Linked DNA regions of Homo sapiens: region 2 is linked to region 1. Evidence: fine-mapped expression QTL. A gene starts in region 1. The other region holds a variant in brackets. All regions are shown on one strand. Distances are between the middles of the regions.

Region 1 (8,323 bases):
CTCCTGATCAGGTGCATTCAGGGAGGCCTGCAACTCCATCCTAAGGTGACATTTCAAGAAACACATGTGTTGACCACCTCTGTGTGCCAAGCACTGGGTGAGGAGTGGTCGTATATTACCATAATTCATCCTCACTCAATTGGGAGGTGGCATTCTTGTCCCTGTTGCCCCCATCTCTACCCCCTTTTGTTAATGGTTGAGAGAAATGTGGACCAGTGATTCTCAGTTTGGTGCCCAGGTCCCCAAAGGAAGTGATGGAGAGCCTTGAGCTAAGTTCAGGCAGCAGCATGTGGCCAGCAGCAGTGTGCTGGGAGCAGAGGTTGGAATCAGGGCTCAGGGCCTTCACTTCAAGGGCCCTCCCCAGCTACTCGGGAGGCTGAGGCAGGAGAATCGCTTGAACTCAGGAGGTGGAGGTTGCGGTGAGCCAAGATCGTGCCACTGCACTCCAGCCTGGGCTACAAGATTGAAAAGATCGAAACTCTGTCTCAAACAAAAAAAAAAAAATTCAAGGCTGTTTCCAAGGCAGCCTCAAAAAGAGCCTGGTGCCCAGGGGGTCCTTCGTTTCTGTGTGGCTGCAGAGGCCAGGAGTGCAGTGACTGTCTCACTGCCTAGTGGTTGTGGCTCACATCCTGCCCTGATGGAGAGGGGGGCCTGTCGTCCAACCCTCTCTGAAAAACTGCAGTAGACTTTACCATTTCAGGCCCCACCTAATGTTCTTTCCTTCCTTCCCCCTACATTCTTCCCGCCCCTTTCATAGTTAAGATGCATAAGCTGAGCAATAACCCCACTTCCTGATTTCCCTGAAATATGAGCCCAGAAGCAGCAGGTGACAGGGAGCTTCCCTTACCCTGGGGTGGTGGCACACAGACCACCTCCTGTCCTGTCCCCTGCAGGTAGTATTCACAGTGTGGTGTTACCTGGGAGGAGGGAGGAAGGAGCTGAGATGAAGGAGATTCAGGTAAACAGTAGCCACAGTGGCCAGGACCCCCTTCCTGAGGATCCCTGTCCTTCCTCGCAGCAGGTGCTTAGTCCTCTCCTAGGGAGAAGCACGGAAAGATTCCTCAAGGCCTCAGTCCCATGTCCAAGGCATACCTAGGTTAGAAATGTCCTTTACTTGTTTCTCAGTTACTATTTCTCCTCTTCCTCCCTCCCCCTGCCTTCTCTTGGCTGTCATTTAGCTCTCTGGCCCACAGAAATACTCCATCCAAGGAGCTGGTCCTCAGTCAGCCTGATGAGGACAGGTCAGTGGCCAACCCTTTTGCCCCAGTCCTTCATCTGGAGACAGTCACATAGTCACGTCAACAGTTCACCCAAAGAGAAGAGGTGGGGCCTGGCTTCTCCCACAGGGCACAGCCTAACTATGGAGACCCAGGGCTCCTTCCTGCTGCACTAGGCCTGTGCTCTCCCTATTGCCTTCAGGTGGTGTGATCCCGGCTTCCTCACAGAGCCCTTTTTTCCTTCTGCCCAGCTCCATCCCACCAGAGTTTCTACCCCCGCTGAGGCATCTCCTGGGCACAGACCACCACACTCTAAGCCGGCTGGCCTGGGAGTTAGGGTCCTGCCCACCTCACCTGGGAGTTGGGGTCCTGCCCACCTGGAGTTTAGCACGCTGGTCGCTCACTTTGCTTTGGTCTGCACACCTGGTGTGTGCATGTGTATACTGCTTGTGCCATCTGTGTACCCCTCTCCCTGGAGTACACTTGTGGTCACACTACAGTGGGGACATCAAGAATGCAATATTTATGGATTGCTGCATGATTCTTAAAAATGAATAAAACTGTTTACAAGGGAAGGAGAGCTAACTGCAAAGTGAGCTTATCTGTGAAAGTTTCTGTCTGACTTTCGCCAGCACTCTTTAATACTTTTACTCAAGAGGATCTGGAGTTGGAGGAGTGGGAGAGGCAAGGGCTAGGGAAAGGCATGTTGGCGGGGGAGTGATGCGCCATAGCCGGGCCTTCTTCATGGTCTGGGCACCAGCCTCCCCGACCCCGGCTCTCCAGCTCCTGGGCAGAGGCGGGGTAATCAACCCAGCCCCCACCACTGCCTCTGCAGCCGCCTTAAACCGGAGAACGTCCAACCCTGCAGCTCCTCAATAATTAAAGAGCAGGAAAGCTGGTGACAGGAGGGAGGCCAGGGGAAGGGAGGAGGAAGGGACACAGTCCCCAGAGTCCCTCTACTCTTAATCCCTGTGACTTAAAGGTTGGTGAAATTAATTGGGCAAATGACCCCGCTAGGAGAATTTGACAAGTCCATGACTTCAGAGTTTTACCCACGGGCTCTGCTTCATCAGCTGTCTCCAGAGGAGTGAGTGCGCTTCTGCAGAAGCCTCTGGAATGTCAGCTTCCTGGAACCTCGAGGATACGGGTGGGGAAGGAGCTGCTTACTGGGACACACTGGATTACCCTACCCCCTTGGTGTGTCTGCCGCCTCTGTGGATGTAAGCGGCAGGTGGCATCGGAAAGTCAGACCTGCCTGGGACACCAGAGAAAGACCCTAAGAGTCGGGGGAGAGGGAAAGGCTGCAGAAACATGAGAAAGTGCCACTCGTAGCGGAGAGGAAAGAAAACCTCAAGGATACGGTTCCCGAGCCTGAGCCCGCTCCCAGCCTTAGCCCCCCAACCCCAGGCTCCGTCCCAGGAGCAGTCGACGCCTCAAAGCGTACGGGACAGGAAGGGGGTGGGGGCGAGAGTCTTGGTTCCCCAGAACGAACGGATCCATAGCGGTTCCCGGTGCCGCAGGCCGCGCGCTTCTCCGACCCCAGCGCGGGGCCCTCGGGCGGGAATGAGCCGAGCCGGGACTTAGCGGCGGGTAGGGGGTTGGGTGGCGCGGGAGAGGGCGGCAGAAGGAGGGAGTTCGAAGAGAGTTGCCGCCAGGGAGAGTGGCAAGTGCCCGCGGTCTCCTTGGAGACGTGCTGGCCAATGGCAGAGGCGGAAGCTGTTTATGGGGGCGGAGCGTCGCCATGGCAGCAGGAGAAGCCTTTGGAGCGGCTACTTAATGCCGGTCCCGGGGCCGCGGTAGCTCAGAGAAGCGCCGTCGGGCGGGGGGGCGGCAAGAGGCGCTGGCAGGGCCCCCGAGCTGGGGGCAGAGAGCCGCAGGGGGTGGGAGCAACTTCTTCCAGAACCTTCCTCTGGCCCGGGCTGCGCTCTGAGCCAGGTAAGGGATGGGGAGGGCTGCAGGCCAGGGGGAAGGGTGGGCAACGGTACCAACCCGCTCTCTCATTCGTCCTTAACGGAAGTGGTGGGCCCAGGGACTGACATCGGAGAAGTCTGGGGGAAACTCGCCTCCTGCCCCCCGTTACTGTTCCGTCCCCTTCCTTCCCAATGATCCCCTATCATAATATTCCTTTTCAAGGATCAGAGGACCTCCACCGCCCCCGCCCCGTCGTACCGCCCTCCCAAACTTCTCGCCCCACTTCCATTTGTTGCGAGGAGGAAGGGGGTCCTGATTTCCTGCTCTTCGGGAGAAAAGGATAGCCTCGGATGCCCCTACCCTCTTCATTTGGCTAATAAAACCTCGAAGAGGAAAGGAAGAGGGAGGCAGATCTGATGGGGGTGGGACCCCAGGGCCTTGCTTCTGTTTCCCATACCTCGGCACTAAAAGATCCTCCCCAGCTGCGGGGATGATGTTAGAGAGGGCGTCCCCGTACACACACTGTCCCCTCGGGGGTGGGGTAGTGCTCAGCTCCCACCGTGGTCCTCGCAGGCACCACATACTTATTCGGAGGAGGCGCCCCCGGGGTCGCGAGATGGAAGCGCGCGTCCGGGAGGCCGTGTAACGGGAGCTGCGGGACTCAGCGGGCCAGAGAGCGCGGCGGGCCACCCCCGGCTCAGCCCGTGGATGCTGACCGCCCCCTCGGAGAGTCCCCGCAGACATGGCGGAGAGCTGGCTGCGCCTCTCGGGAGCCGGGCCGGCGGAGGAGGCCGGGCCGGAGGGCGGCCTGGAGGAGCCCGACGCCCTGGATGACAGCCTGACCAGCCTGCAGTGGCTGCAGGAATTCTCCATTCTCAACGCCAAGGCCCCCGCCCTGCCCCCGGGGGGCACCGACCCCCACGGCTACCACCAGGTGCCAGGTTCAGCGGCGCCCGGGTCCCCCCTGGCGGCCGACCCCGCCTGCCTGGGGCAGCCACACACGCCGGGCAAGCCCACGTCGTCGTGCACGTCGCGGAGCGCGCCCCCGGGGCTGCAGGCCCCACCCCCCGACGACGTGGACTACGCCACCAATCCGCACGTGAAGCCTCCCTACTCGTATGCCACGCTCATCTGCATGGCCATGCAGGCCAGCAAGGCCACCAAGATCACCCTGTCGGCCATCTACAAGTGGATCACGGACAACTTCTGCTACTTCCGCCACGCAGATCCCACCTGGCAGGTAGAGGAGGCACGGGCGGCGGCCGCTCCCTCCCCATTCCCTCCTCGCTCCCCACGCTGCACTGGATTCATATCCCAAATCTGCAGGCCAAGTAGGCTCTGCGGTGCGGCCAGCGCCCCAGAAGGGAGCCCTGCAAAGGAGCCCAGTTCTTGCAACTGCCCCTCCTTTGACTTCCAGAGAGAGAGAGAGAGAGAAGGGAGAATGTCCAGAGGTGGAGGGCTTTAGGGGTGCAGAGGCTGAGATTCAAGGGGAAATAACCTGCCATTCATCCAGCAGGCCCAGGCCAAAGACCAGGGCTAGACTCTGCGTGGACAGAATCTCCTTGGGGAGAGCGATGAACTGAAGGCGCATTCTTGTCCCAAGTCCTAGAATTCCTAGACACTGCCCTGCCCCGGGATGGTTTGTCGGGGCCGGGAGTCAGAAACGGAAACTGGAACGTGGCCTCCCTGCCAGGCTCTACGTCCTGCCCTTTTGCAGTTGGCTTGGGGAGGGTGGAATGGAAGGGGTGCCTTAGCATGTGAGGGCCAGGTGTGTCCCAATGGAGGGTGGAGGGGGTAAGGGGCCTTCCTAAAGCTGCTGTCCCAGCCCCCCACCTCAACCTCTGCTCAGTTTCCTGCCTCCAACCCCCGCTGTCAGCCAACCTCCCTGGGGGGACAATTACCTGAGCCAGGTGCCTTCCACTGGGGCTCTGCCTACCACACTCACTTCGTGTTCCACGTCTCTGGAACCAGGCACTGAGCAGCCAAGGGGCCCAGGCCACCATGTAAACATCCCAGCCTTGCTGCCGGGCATTATCCACCCACCTGCCCTGCCGTCCCAGCCCAGGACCCCTGTCCCCCAGCAGGCTTTGGACAAGATTAAGCACCTAAGAATGGACAAGGCAGGAGGATGGTGGATTTGAGGCTGGGTAGGCAGTGCCCTAAGAGTCTTCAGCCATCACCATCAAGGGCTAGTTGGAGTCAGGGGCCCCCCAAGGACGCCCAGACTCTTCCCTGAAGCACCCAAAGCGGGCAGGCCACAGGACCGCAGTCCCAAGCCATTTCCAATGCCCCTGACCCTAGAGCAGGGTCATTTGCAGCTGCACCGAAAAAGCAGAGACCCTCAGCCCCACCCTACCCTAAGCCTGTGCAGCTGCGCTTCGAGAAACGGGCCCCAGGAATGAGTGCTATGCTCTTAGCTCTTGGCTGGGTAATAATCAACTGAGCCTGGAGTGGGGGGAGGGGGCCGTGGGGGGTGAAGGCCCAGGCCAGCAGCCGGCTCAACAAACAAGGAAAGTCATCAGATCCCCCACCTCTCATCCCTGCGCGCTCTCTCTCTCTCTCCCCCTTCCTCTCCACTCTCGGCTGCCCAGCCCCCTCCCTGGACCCACTCACTCACAGAGAGGGCCAGCCAGGCCCAGGCAAAGGGAGACGGTGGTCCAGGCCCTGGGGGAGCCGAGGGCTTTGGCCAGAGGCTGTCAGCGGCAGGGTGAGGGAGGGAGGGCAGGCGACGGGGGTGGCACCGAGAGCCACCCTGCGGCTCAGAGCTCGGATGACTGAGCAGGCAGATATCCCGGCAACAGGGAACAAAAGCCTCCGACAGCACTCCGGGCTCCCAGTGCCCTGTGGCTGGTGTCCCAGAGCTGCAGCCGCCTGGGCAGACCAGTGTGTCTGTCCCCCCCTCCTCTCCCCTGCCAGAGAAAAGATGGGGGGTGCGCAGCAGCGCCAGGTGCCATTTCATCTCCCCGTCCCCACTGACCTAGCGGTTCCTCTCTCTCTTGCTCTCTCCCTGCACCCAGAATTCAATCCGCCACAACCTGTCTCTGAACAAGTGCTTCATCAAAGTGCCTCGGGAGAAGGACGAACCAGGCAAGGGGGGCTTCTGGCGCATTGACCCCCAGTACGCGGAGCGGCTACTGAGCGGCGCTTTCAAGAAGCGGCGACTGCCCCCTGTCCACATCCACCCAGCCTTTGCCCGCCAGGCCGCGCAGGAGCCCAGCGCTGTCCCCCGGGCCGGGCCGCTGACGGTGAATACCGAGGCCCAGCAGCTGCTGCGGGAGTTCGAGGAGGCCACCGGGGAGGCGGGCTGGGGTGCAGGCGAGGGCAGGCTGGGGCATAAGCGCAAACAGCCGCTGCCCAAGCGGGTGGCCAAGGTCCCGCGGCCCCCCAGCACCCTGCTGCCCACCCCGGAGGAGCAGGGTGAGCTGGAACCCCTCAAAGGCAACTTTGACTGGGAGGCCATCTTCGACGCCGGCACTCTGGGCGGGGAGCTGGGTGCACTGGAGGCCCTGGAGCTGAGCCCGCCTCTGAGCCCCGCCTCACACGTGGACGTGGACCTCACCATCCACGGCCGCCACATCGACTGCCCTGCCACCTGGGGGCCTTCGGTGGAGCAGGCTGCCGACAGCCTGGACTTCGATGAGACCTTCCTGGCCACATCCTTCCTGCAGCACCCCTGGGACGAGAGCGGCAGTGGCTGCCTGCCCCCGGAGCCCCTCTTTGAGGCTGGGGATGCCACCCTGGCCTCCGACCTGCAGGACTGGGCCAGCGTGGGGGCCTTCTTGTAAGAGGCCAGGCCCTGCCCCACCTCTGGACAGTGCCCAAGTCAGGGTCCAGAACTGCCCCCCAACACAGGTCCACAGACACCCCACCACCTAGGCAGGGGCTGGGCCAGGGCTCCAAGGCTTGCCCCAGAGGCCACATGGCCACCAGCCCCAGCTGCCATCAGATTCAAGCCCAGGAGGCTGAAAACGAGGGCCCAGGACCAGAATCGCTGCCTCCTCTCCCCAGCCCCACCTTGTACACACAGTGTTTCATTGCTCCGCGTCTTCCCAGCCCCAGAAACCGGCTAAAGGACCCTGCACCATGAGAGCCGAGGCCTGGAGGAGCCCGGGTCAGGCTGGGGAGGAACAGAACTGGGCCCTCCCAGAGCACCTCCGCTTCCCCCCTGCTTCCCCAGGTCTCTATCCAGAGAGAGTCCCCAGGTACAACAAATGCTAATTAGATGACAGCAAATTAACCCCCTGGAGGCTTCTCCTGGCAGAGCCTCCCTGGGGCCGGGGCAGGCTGTGGATGGGGCGGAGCAGGGCAGAAGATGGACTGGGGGAGGGGGCAGAGAGAGGAGACCAAAATGAGGTGGTGGCACAGGGTGGGGCAAGGAGATCCTCTCTAAGGCCTCTGGGGTCTTTGCCTGGCCCCATCCCTAGGGGGCGGGGAGGGGACGTAAATCCCTAATCTTTAAGCCCGACTTGAGGCTGAGAGCAGCTGGAAGTTTGGGTTTGGTGGTTTGGGGGCCGGGGCAGCCAAGCTGTATGGGGCAGGACAGACAGACTAATGTAGTGAGTGTAGCTGTAGCTGAGGCTTAACTGGGAGGGATGCCGAGCTTGCTGGAACTACTGGGACCAAGAAGCGGGGTACCCCACGCCCCTGCCTGCACTCCTCGGGGGCGTGGGGCGTGCCTTGCTCCACCCGGACTCCCTGGGCTGCGTCCCACATCCACCCTCCTGCCCCGTGGGGCAATTTAACCTTTTTCATGAAAGTTATTTACAATGAAAAGTTTTTAAAAATAAAATTTTTAAAAATCTAAATATGGACCTGCTCAAAACTTTCTTTGGGAACAGGTGAGGGCTCAGTGTTCTGGAGAGGCAGCGCTTCTCTTTGCTGGAGGGAGGGATGGCTGAGAGGAAGATGCGGGGGCACTTACGGCCTGCAAAGAGCACTAACCAACTCCCCATGACCTCAGCATCCCCGGGGAGGAAGGGGCTGAGGGGTGGCTCTCGGTTGTCCCCTGCAGCCTAGGCCTCAGTGCCTCCATCTGTGCAATGGGGAGACTGGGGTCCACAGCCCTGGGGGATCAGGAGACAAAGGGAGGAGGAGTGGCCTCAGTCCCCAGACCCAGGGAATCTCAAAGGCTAAGTGTGCCCTGGGCTCGGCCCCTGCTGTCCCCTACTGCGAGGGCCTGCCCGGGCCCGCCTGCC
Region 2 (8,323 bases), 410 kb before region 1:
TTTTCTCCATTCCAGTCTCCCTGTTCTCATCCACCCATTAACAGTGATCTCTGTGGCCTTCGGTGTGGGTTATATTGTCCTGCAGATGGTAATATGTTGCAGATACTTATCTTCAAATTACCACATTTGCTTATGTTTACCTCCTTTCATTTGATTGTAAGCTCTTCAAGAGCAGAAGTCTCTTTTTATTATTATTATTATTTTTTTTTTTTTTTTTTTTTGAGATGGACTTTTGCTCTTGTTGCCCAGGCTGGAATGCAATGGCACGATCTCGGCTCACGGCAACCTCCGCCTCCCAAGCTCAAGTGATTCTCCTGCCTCAGCCTCCTGAGTAGCTGGGATTACAGGCATGCGCCACCACGCCCAGCTAATTTTGTATTTTTAGTAGAGATGGGGTTTCTCCATGTTAGGCTGTTCTCAAACTCCTGACCTCAGGTGATCCACCCGTCTCAGCCTCCCAAAGTGCTGGGATTACAGGCGTGAGCCACCACGCCCAGCCTCTTTTTATTTTTATTTTTTTCTTTTTAATTTCTTAACAGTGCAGGGTTTGGTATTTACCTGCTATGCTCACAGTAAGTCTTCAGCAAATAATCATTAATTCATTCAGCAGTAATTCTGGCCATTAGGTTTCTCTACCTTACCCTTGAAGACACGTTATTTTGTGTAATACTGAAAGGAAGAATGTGTTCTATCCCTGCAAACATAGTTCCTTTCATTTGAGACTTACAGTGGGAATTCTAAGTGTGGAATTTCCCAAAAGCTGCTAGCGGGCTGGTGACCTACTGTAGACAAGATAGTAATGATAGCTAATACTTCATAGCACTTACCAGGTGCCATTCCCTATACTGGTTTCTGTACATGTATGAACTCGTTTAATCCTCACAATGCGATGAAGTACTACTGTCAGAGGCATTGGAACCAGAAAACTCCATCTTGAATAGGAGCTGGGTGAAACGAGGCTGAAACCTACTGGGCTGCATTCCCGGACGGTTAAGGCATTCTAAGTCACAGGATGAGACAGGAGGTCGGCACAAGATACAGGCCATAAAGACCTTGCTGATAAAACAGTTTGCAGTAAATAAGCCCACCAAAACCAAAACCAAGATGGCGATGAGAGTGACCTCTGGTCGTCCTCACTGCTACACTCCCACCAGCGCCATGACAGTTTACAAATGCCATGGCAACATCAGGAAGTTACCCTATGTGGTCTAAAAATGGGAGGCGTAAATAATCCACCCCTTGTTTAGGATATAATCAAGAAATAACCATAAAAATGGGCAACCAGCAGCCCTCAGGGCTGCTCTGTGGAGTAGCCTTTTTTTTTTTTTTTTTTTTGAGACAGAGTCTCGCTCTGTCACCCAGGCTGCAGTGGTGCTGCTGTCTCGGCTCACTGCAGCCTCCACCTCCTGGGTTCAAGCAATTCTCCTGCTTCAGCCTCCCGAGTAGCTGGATTACAGGCGCACGCCACCACGCCCGGCTAATTTTTGTATTTTTAGTAGCAACAGGGTTTCACCATGTTGGCCAGGCTGGTCTCGAACTCCTGACCTCAAGTGATCTGCCTGCCTCAGCCTCCCAAAGTGCTAGGATTATAGGCTTGAGCCACCATGCCTGGCCAAGTAGCCATTCTTTTATTCCTTTACTTTTCTAATAAACTTGCTTTCACTTTAGTCTATAGACATCCCAAATTCCTTCTTGCTCAAGATCCAAGAACCCTCTTTTGGGGTCTGGATCAGGACTCCTCTCCGGTAACACTATCACTGTCCCCATTTTACGGATAAGGAAACAGAAGCACTGGGAAATTCGGTAACTTGCCCAAATTCACATAACCAGTAACTGGCAGGGTCAGGGTTTGCTCCCAGCCTGTAGAATCCATGCTTTTACCGCTAATGAATAAGGTGACCTTATGTATAAGGACTTTTGTTTTCGGGGAGGAAGGGAGAAGGAAGAAGATTTTCATGTGTTTGTAGGGGTGGTTGGGGACAAAATCAGAAATGAGGTTGAAAGGGGGAACAATGGGCACCTGCTCTGCCATTTGAGCCACTTCGTGGCAGGAAGAGTGAGGATGGGAGGCTGCAGAGCTGATGTGTGGAAGATGGAGGCTCTGGGCTCTAGCAGGGCTGTATTGGGCCTGGATGCCACCCAGTGTATAGTGAGGGCCATTCTTTACAGCTCTTCACTCTGCCGCAGGCCACCAAGTTGCTTTCACACCTGACTGGACATCGCTTCCCCAACAGCAGGTTCATGGCAGATGGGGATGCCAGGGCAGCTGGGCAGTGGCCAAGAGGCTGGAGCGAAATACAATGAGAGGCCTTGTGCCGAGCACATGTAAAGTACACTGTGCAGCCAACCCAGAAATAACTAGGGGGACTTCAGAGAATGCATCAGAATTCCTGAATGAGCCGGCAAGGGCTCAGAGCTGTTGAGACTGAAATGTGGATGTTACTGTGATCTCATTTGCACTCATTGCTGGTGAGAGCTAGGACATTTGAGTTTTACCTACCGTGGAATTATTATACAGCCTTTATACCAGGCTAGTGCAGACCTCTATTTATTGACATGGAAAGAGTCACAGTCTAGTGACTCTTTACAAACAGGAAAGCAAAAGTCCCCAGCGCTTTTCAGGGACCCAGGCTCTGAGTACAAAGGGAAAATCCAGTCAGCTGGCCTGCTGTATTGGGGTGGTCACTGACAGCGTTTAAGACATGGTATCTGAAACCCACAGTAATAGAAAACAGTCTTTGGGCTGGTCGCAGTGGCTCATGCCTATAATCCCAACACTTTGGTTGGCCAAGGCAGGAGGATCACTTGAGCCCAGGAGTTCAAGACCAGCCTGAGCAACATAGGGAGACCCCCGTCTCTACCAATAAAAAATGAGAAACAGCCAGGTGTGGTGGCACATGCCTGTGGTCCCAGCTGGATGGGAGGCTGAGGTGGGAGGATTGCTGGGGCCCGTGAGATTGAGGCTGTGCAGTGAGCCATGACTTCATCACTGCCCTCCAGCCTGGATGACAGAGCAAGACCTTGTCTCAAAAAAATAAATACATAAAAATAAAACAGTCTTTAGAATATTGAGGTTAATTTCTCTACCCAGAAAGCAATCTTTAATTTTATTAATAAGAACACAAAAGAAGGTAGGTAGTATCCCAGACAGCCAACTGCTTACATTTGGAACGGTGGCAGCAGCGATATCACAGGAAGCACATCTGTGTGTCAGGCACTGTTAGTGGCCAGTCTCTTCCTCCGTCTGGTGAACCTAGGCTTCGTTCAGCTGCTGGGCAAGAGTCTGCTTCAGCGGGACAAGCCCCTCCCCAGCCCCCAGGGGCAAACCTTGATTCATCTGTACCAGACATGGTAAGTCTATTCCCTTTGCTGGAAATTGTTTTAGGAAAGGGTCTGTGATGCAATTCTGGCCAAGTTTAGGAAAGTTTTCCTGCTTTTAAAAACAACAGCCTCTCTTCTGGCTTTGGGACACTGAGAAGAAGTGATGCTGGGCCTGCTGGAGCCATCTTGCATCTGCGAGGCTTCCATTAAGTAGGAGCTGAAGGACTGCGATGGCAGAGTAGAGAGAAGAAAGAACATGAGTCCTCAGTGATGCTGCTGACCCGCAGAAACCGCCAGTCCCAACACCCCTGAACTTCAGACCTCGTTTTGATTCAGAGACACATTTATACATTTCATATATATATACACACACATATATATGTATACATGTATACATATATATACACATATACATGTTTTATATATATATATTTTTATATATATATATAT[AT/T]TTTTTTTTTTTTTTTTTGAGACAGAGCTTTGCTCTTGTCGCCCAGGCTGGAATGCAGTGGCATGATCTCAGCTCACTGCAACCTCTACCTCCTGGATTCATGTGATTCTCCTGCCTCAGCCTCCCAAGTAGCTGGGATTACAGGTGTGCACCATCACACCCAGCTAATTTTTGTATTTTTGGTAGAGACAGAGTTTCACCATTCTGGCCAGGCTGGTCTCGAACTCCTGACCTCAGGTAACCCACCCACTTCAGCCTCCCAAAGTGCTGGAATCACAAGCATGAGCCATCACAGCTGGTCGCATTTTCATATTCTAAAATGCAGGATGTGTCTTACAAGCAATGGCATCTCAGTTTGAGTGAATTACAAAATGTGAGATTTTAGGCTGGGTGCAGTGGCTCACGCCTGTAATCCCAGCACTTTGGGAGGCCGAGGAGGGTGGATCACGAGGTCAGGAGATTGAGACCATCCTGGCTAACACAGTGAAACCCCATCTCTACTAAAAATACAAAAAAAAAAATTAGCCAGGCGTGGTGGCGGGTGCCTGTAGTCCCAGCTACTCAGGAGGCTGAGGCAGGAGAATGGCTTGAACCCGGGAGGCAGAGCTTGCAGTGAGTGGAGATCGTACCACTGCACTCCAGCCTGGGCGACAGAGCGAGACTCCATCTCAAAAAAAATAAATAAATAAAAAGTGAGATTTTAAAAAGAAATCTTATTAAGTCATTTTAAGTTGGGTGTTCTGTTTCAGTCAAATCATCCTAAATGATATCTTTTAAAAATAATTCTTCCCAGAAGAATGGATCATGGCAGAATACAGAAAATGAGCTCATGTGTGCAAGCCTCCTTCCGGAAATCATAACAGCTATGTGTATATGAAGTGTTTACTCTGTGGCAGGTACTCTGGAAGCACCTTTTATTCACTGTCTCATCTGATTCTCATGACAGCCCTGTCATTATCCCCCACCCCCCCACCTTCCCATTTCACAGCTGAGGAAGTCAAGGTGCAGAAAGGTTAAAGGAACTCATAAGTGAAGGCACTGCGATCTGAACTCAAACAATCCAGCCTAAAAACCCATGGTCTCAGCCACCATGCCATGTTTCCTAAAAAAATTACGCTATGACAGTGGACCGTTTTTGCTTAACTCCAGAGACTTTAATTCACCCACCTAGAAAACCTGTCATGAAAATATAGAGGATTTTTTCCTGAGAGTTCTTAGGACCGTGAAACAGTGTCACAAATCCTGTTCAGAAAGCTGGGATCATGCAGATGACCAGGCAGATGGAAGAAAAGTAAAAATATAAAAATTTAAAAACCTGGGATCACTGCTTTAAGTTTCACCGAGCTTTAACTTTCTGGAAGAGGAGAAATATAACACAGACCCTACGCATTGAGAATAGATGGCGTTGGAGTTGTGGATTATCTGTGCTTGCCAACAGTGTACAGGAAAAAAAGCGATGCATTTGACTTCCCTGCTTGGCAGAGCCACTGCCTCTAGAGTATTACTCAAAAATTGATTTTTTAAAAATAAAAATAAATGAATTTGAAGACGATATAATGCTCCATGGATCTCTTCTGTTATTTCCTGGGCATGTCTCTCCATGCCCAGAAACCCTTGCCTTCTCACAGCTGTTGCATAACCTTTGCTTGTGGTGGTGTTTGTTCCTGTTGCCTTGAAAGTCCCTTCACTGCATTCTCTTCTCTGCTCTGCAAATTCCAGCTTGTACTTAAATACTTCCTGCGAAGTTTTGACTGAGACGCTGCAACAATTCCCGAGCTGTTTCATCGTGGCACCTTCCTGGTGGCAGGTGGATTAGCACATTGTCTGCAACCCAGGAGGACTTGGAGGAAAGTCCCAGCTCTGCTGATTCTAGCTGAGTAACCTTGGCAAAGGTCACCTCACTTCTCTCTGAGTCTTATTTTCTCATCTGTAAAATGAGGAGGAGGAGGAGGATCATCCAAACATCACGGGACTTCGTTAAATCAGTGCTTCGGGGCACTTAGCACAGCGCCTGGCGCAAGGTAAGCACTTGATAAATGGGAGTTCGTGTTATTTCAACATACTTTGAACACTCATCCCACTGTTTGATGATTATTTGTATGTCTGGCTTTTCTGCTAGATGGTGAGCAAAACAAGCATCATTCTTCATTCTTGTTTTGTTTCTAACTCTCTAAATCATCTTTATTCTCGTGTAACTTACATACAATACAGTATAACCATTTACAATGTATGGTTCAGTAGTCCAATAAGTGTATAGACCCATGTAACCACAATCCCAGTTAAGATTTAGAACACTGTTGTCACCTCAAAAGCACCTTCTTAGGCGGGTGCGGTGGCTCATGCCTGTAATCCCAGCACTTTGGGAGGCTGAGGCCGGTGGATCACCTGAGGTCAGGAGTTTGAGACCAGCCTGGCCAACGTGGCGAAACCCCGTCTCTACTAAAAATACAAAAAATTAGCTGGGCGTGGTGGTGGGCATCTGTAATCCCAGCTACTCAGGAGGCTGAGGCAGGAGAATCACTTGAACCTGGGAGGCGAGGTTGCAATGAGCCGAGATCGCACCATTGCACTCCAGCCTAGGTGATGAGAGCAAAACTCCATCTCAAAAAAAAAAAAAGAACCTTCTAGGCTGGGCACGGTGGCTCACACCTGTAATCCCACCACTTTGGGAGGCCGAGGCGGGTGGATCACTTGAGGTCAGGAGTTCAAGACCAGCCTGGCCAATATGATGAAACCCCGTCTCTACTAAAAATACAAACATCAGCTGGGCGTGGTAGTGTAAGCTGGTAGTCCCTACTACTCAGGAGGCTGAGGCAGGAGAATTGCTTGAACTCAGGAGGTGGAGGTTGCAGTGAGCCAAGATCATGCCACTGCACTCCAGCCTGGGTGACAAAGTGAGACTCCATCTCAAAAAAAAGAAAAAAAAACAAACAAAAAAACAAAAACCTTCTTACCCTTGCAGTCAACCCCCACAATATCTAACCCCGGCCCCAGTCAACCACTGATGCCTTCTGTCACTATCAGTCGGTTCTGCCTGTTCTAGAATTCCGTGTACATGTCATCATCACACAGTAGGGGCTCTTTTGTGTCTGGCTTCTCTCAATTTACCCATGTCGTCGGCATCAGCAGTTCATTTCCTTTTCATTGCTGAGTATTATTCTATCTTTATATATCTCAGTGTGTTTATCTGTTCCCACGTCGAGGAATATTTGGGTTGTTTCCAGTTTGGAGCTGTTAGTAATAAAGCTGCCATGAACATCTTTGCAGTCTTTTTTGTGGATGTAAGTTTTCATTCCTCTGGGATAACTTTATAAGGAACCACCATGCTGGTTTCCCAAGTGGTTGTAACACTTCACCAGTCCCCAGCCGTGTATGACAGGGTGACATCTTGGACAGTACTTACTATGGTCGGCCTTCAGCTGTAACCACTCTGGTAGGCATGTAGTGGTATGTCATTGGGCTTTTGATTTGCATGTGGAGTATCTTTCTTCTTTCCCAAAGTGCTGGTATTACAGGCGTGAGCCACCGCGCCCAGCCGCATGTCGAACAACTTTCTATGTATTTTAGCTGTATGTTTATTTTTTGTTGTAGTGTCTATTAAAATCTTTCCCCACTTTTTTATTGGGCCATCTTATTATCGAATTGTAAAAGTTCTTTATGTATTCCGGATACAAGTCCTTTCTCAGATTTTTGTTTGGCAAATATTTACTCCTAGTCTTTCCAAGAGCAGAGGTTTAATTTTGATAAAGTCCAGTGTATTGATTTTTCTTTTCTGGTTAGTGCTTTTTGTATCCTGTTGAAAGGACCTTTCTTTCTCCATTGGATTGCCTTTCTGCATCTGTTTTTGGATTCCATTGATCTGTGTGTATATCCTTATGAATCTCACACTGTCTTGACCTCTGATTCTGTCTCCTCCTCACCTTAGCAAAGCCACTGTGGTCCGCTTGGGTTTCCCCTCCCCAAGGCACAGTCAGGGAACTGTCTCCAGGCAGAAGCTGAGGCAGTCATGGGGTCACTGTCCTGTGTGCTGCCTGTTGTCAAGTGTCTGCTGCTTATATCTTGCCCAGTTTTCTGGTTGTTTGTGGCAGAAGGTCTTAATCCGTTTCTGGATCCACAGTGCCTGGCACACAGCACTCCAGACACAGTTCATTACAGTTGCTTTCGATTGGGAAAGTCGGTGGGGCCCCCAGAGAGCTTCTGGTCCATCCCCTTCATTTTACTAAACTGTTCTTTTCCTGAGGAGATCATTAGTCCTCTGCGTCCTCACTCCAGCCCACCTGGGCTTGACAAATGTTTATCAAATGAGGAAACCGAGGTCCAGAGAACTAAAGGTCACAGGGACAGGCAGGGTTGGGCTGGCAGAACTAGGCCACCGAGGCTGGGGCCTTCCTATAGGACCAACCAGCAGGGCAGGGTCTGTCTCTCCTCGAGTGTCACTCCTGACACCTGATACAGGGTTTGTACATTGCAGGTTCCCAGGACACGCTTGTTAAATAAATGACCAAATGAACACATTAATTTATTTTAATGCTTAGTTCAAATGGCTTCTGC

What was found.
Region 2: its variant is fine-mapped to the expression of RNF157-AS1 in whole blood (INTERVAL, PIP above 0.99).

What each region holds. Positions count from the first base shown.
Region 1 is chr17:76,135,943-76,144,265 of GRCh38, reverse strand. RNF157-AS1 (RNF157 antisense RNA 1) reads right to left here and starts at 3,710. Exons shown (of 8, transcript NR_040017.1): 1 at 3,586-3,710; 2 at 918-1,036. It overlaps FOXJ1 (forkhead box J1), which reads left to right and starts at 3,021. Exons shown (of 3, transcript NM_001454.4): 1 at 3,021-3,152; 2 at 3,702-4,368; 3 at 6,146-7,933. The coding sequence starts at 3,871. The coding sequence ends at 6,913. It overlaps RNF157 (ring finger protein 157), which reads left to right. Exons shown (of 19, transcript NM_052916.3): 19 at 1-1,792. RefSeq lists silencers at 3,026-3,185, 3,864-3,933, 3,994-4,183 and enhancers at 4,595-5,254, 5,917-6,576, 6,577-7,238.
Region 2 is chr17:76,548,332-76,556,654 of GRCh38, reverse strand. It overlaps a transcript of CYGB not described here and a transcript of PRCD not described here. Among named protein-coding and RNA genes, the nearest start is that of SNHG16, 5.3 kb to the left of the region's middle. The variant AT/T (reference allele first, on the strand shown) is at 3,772.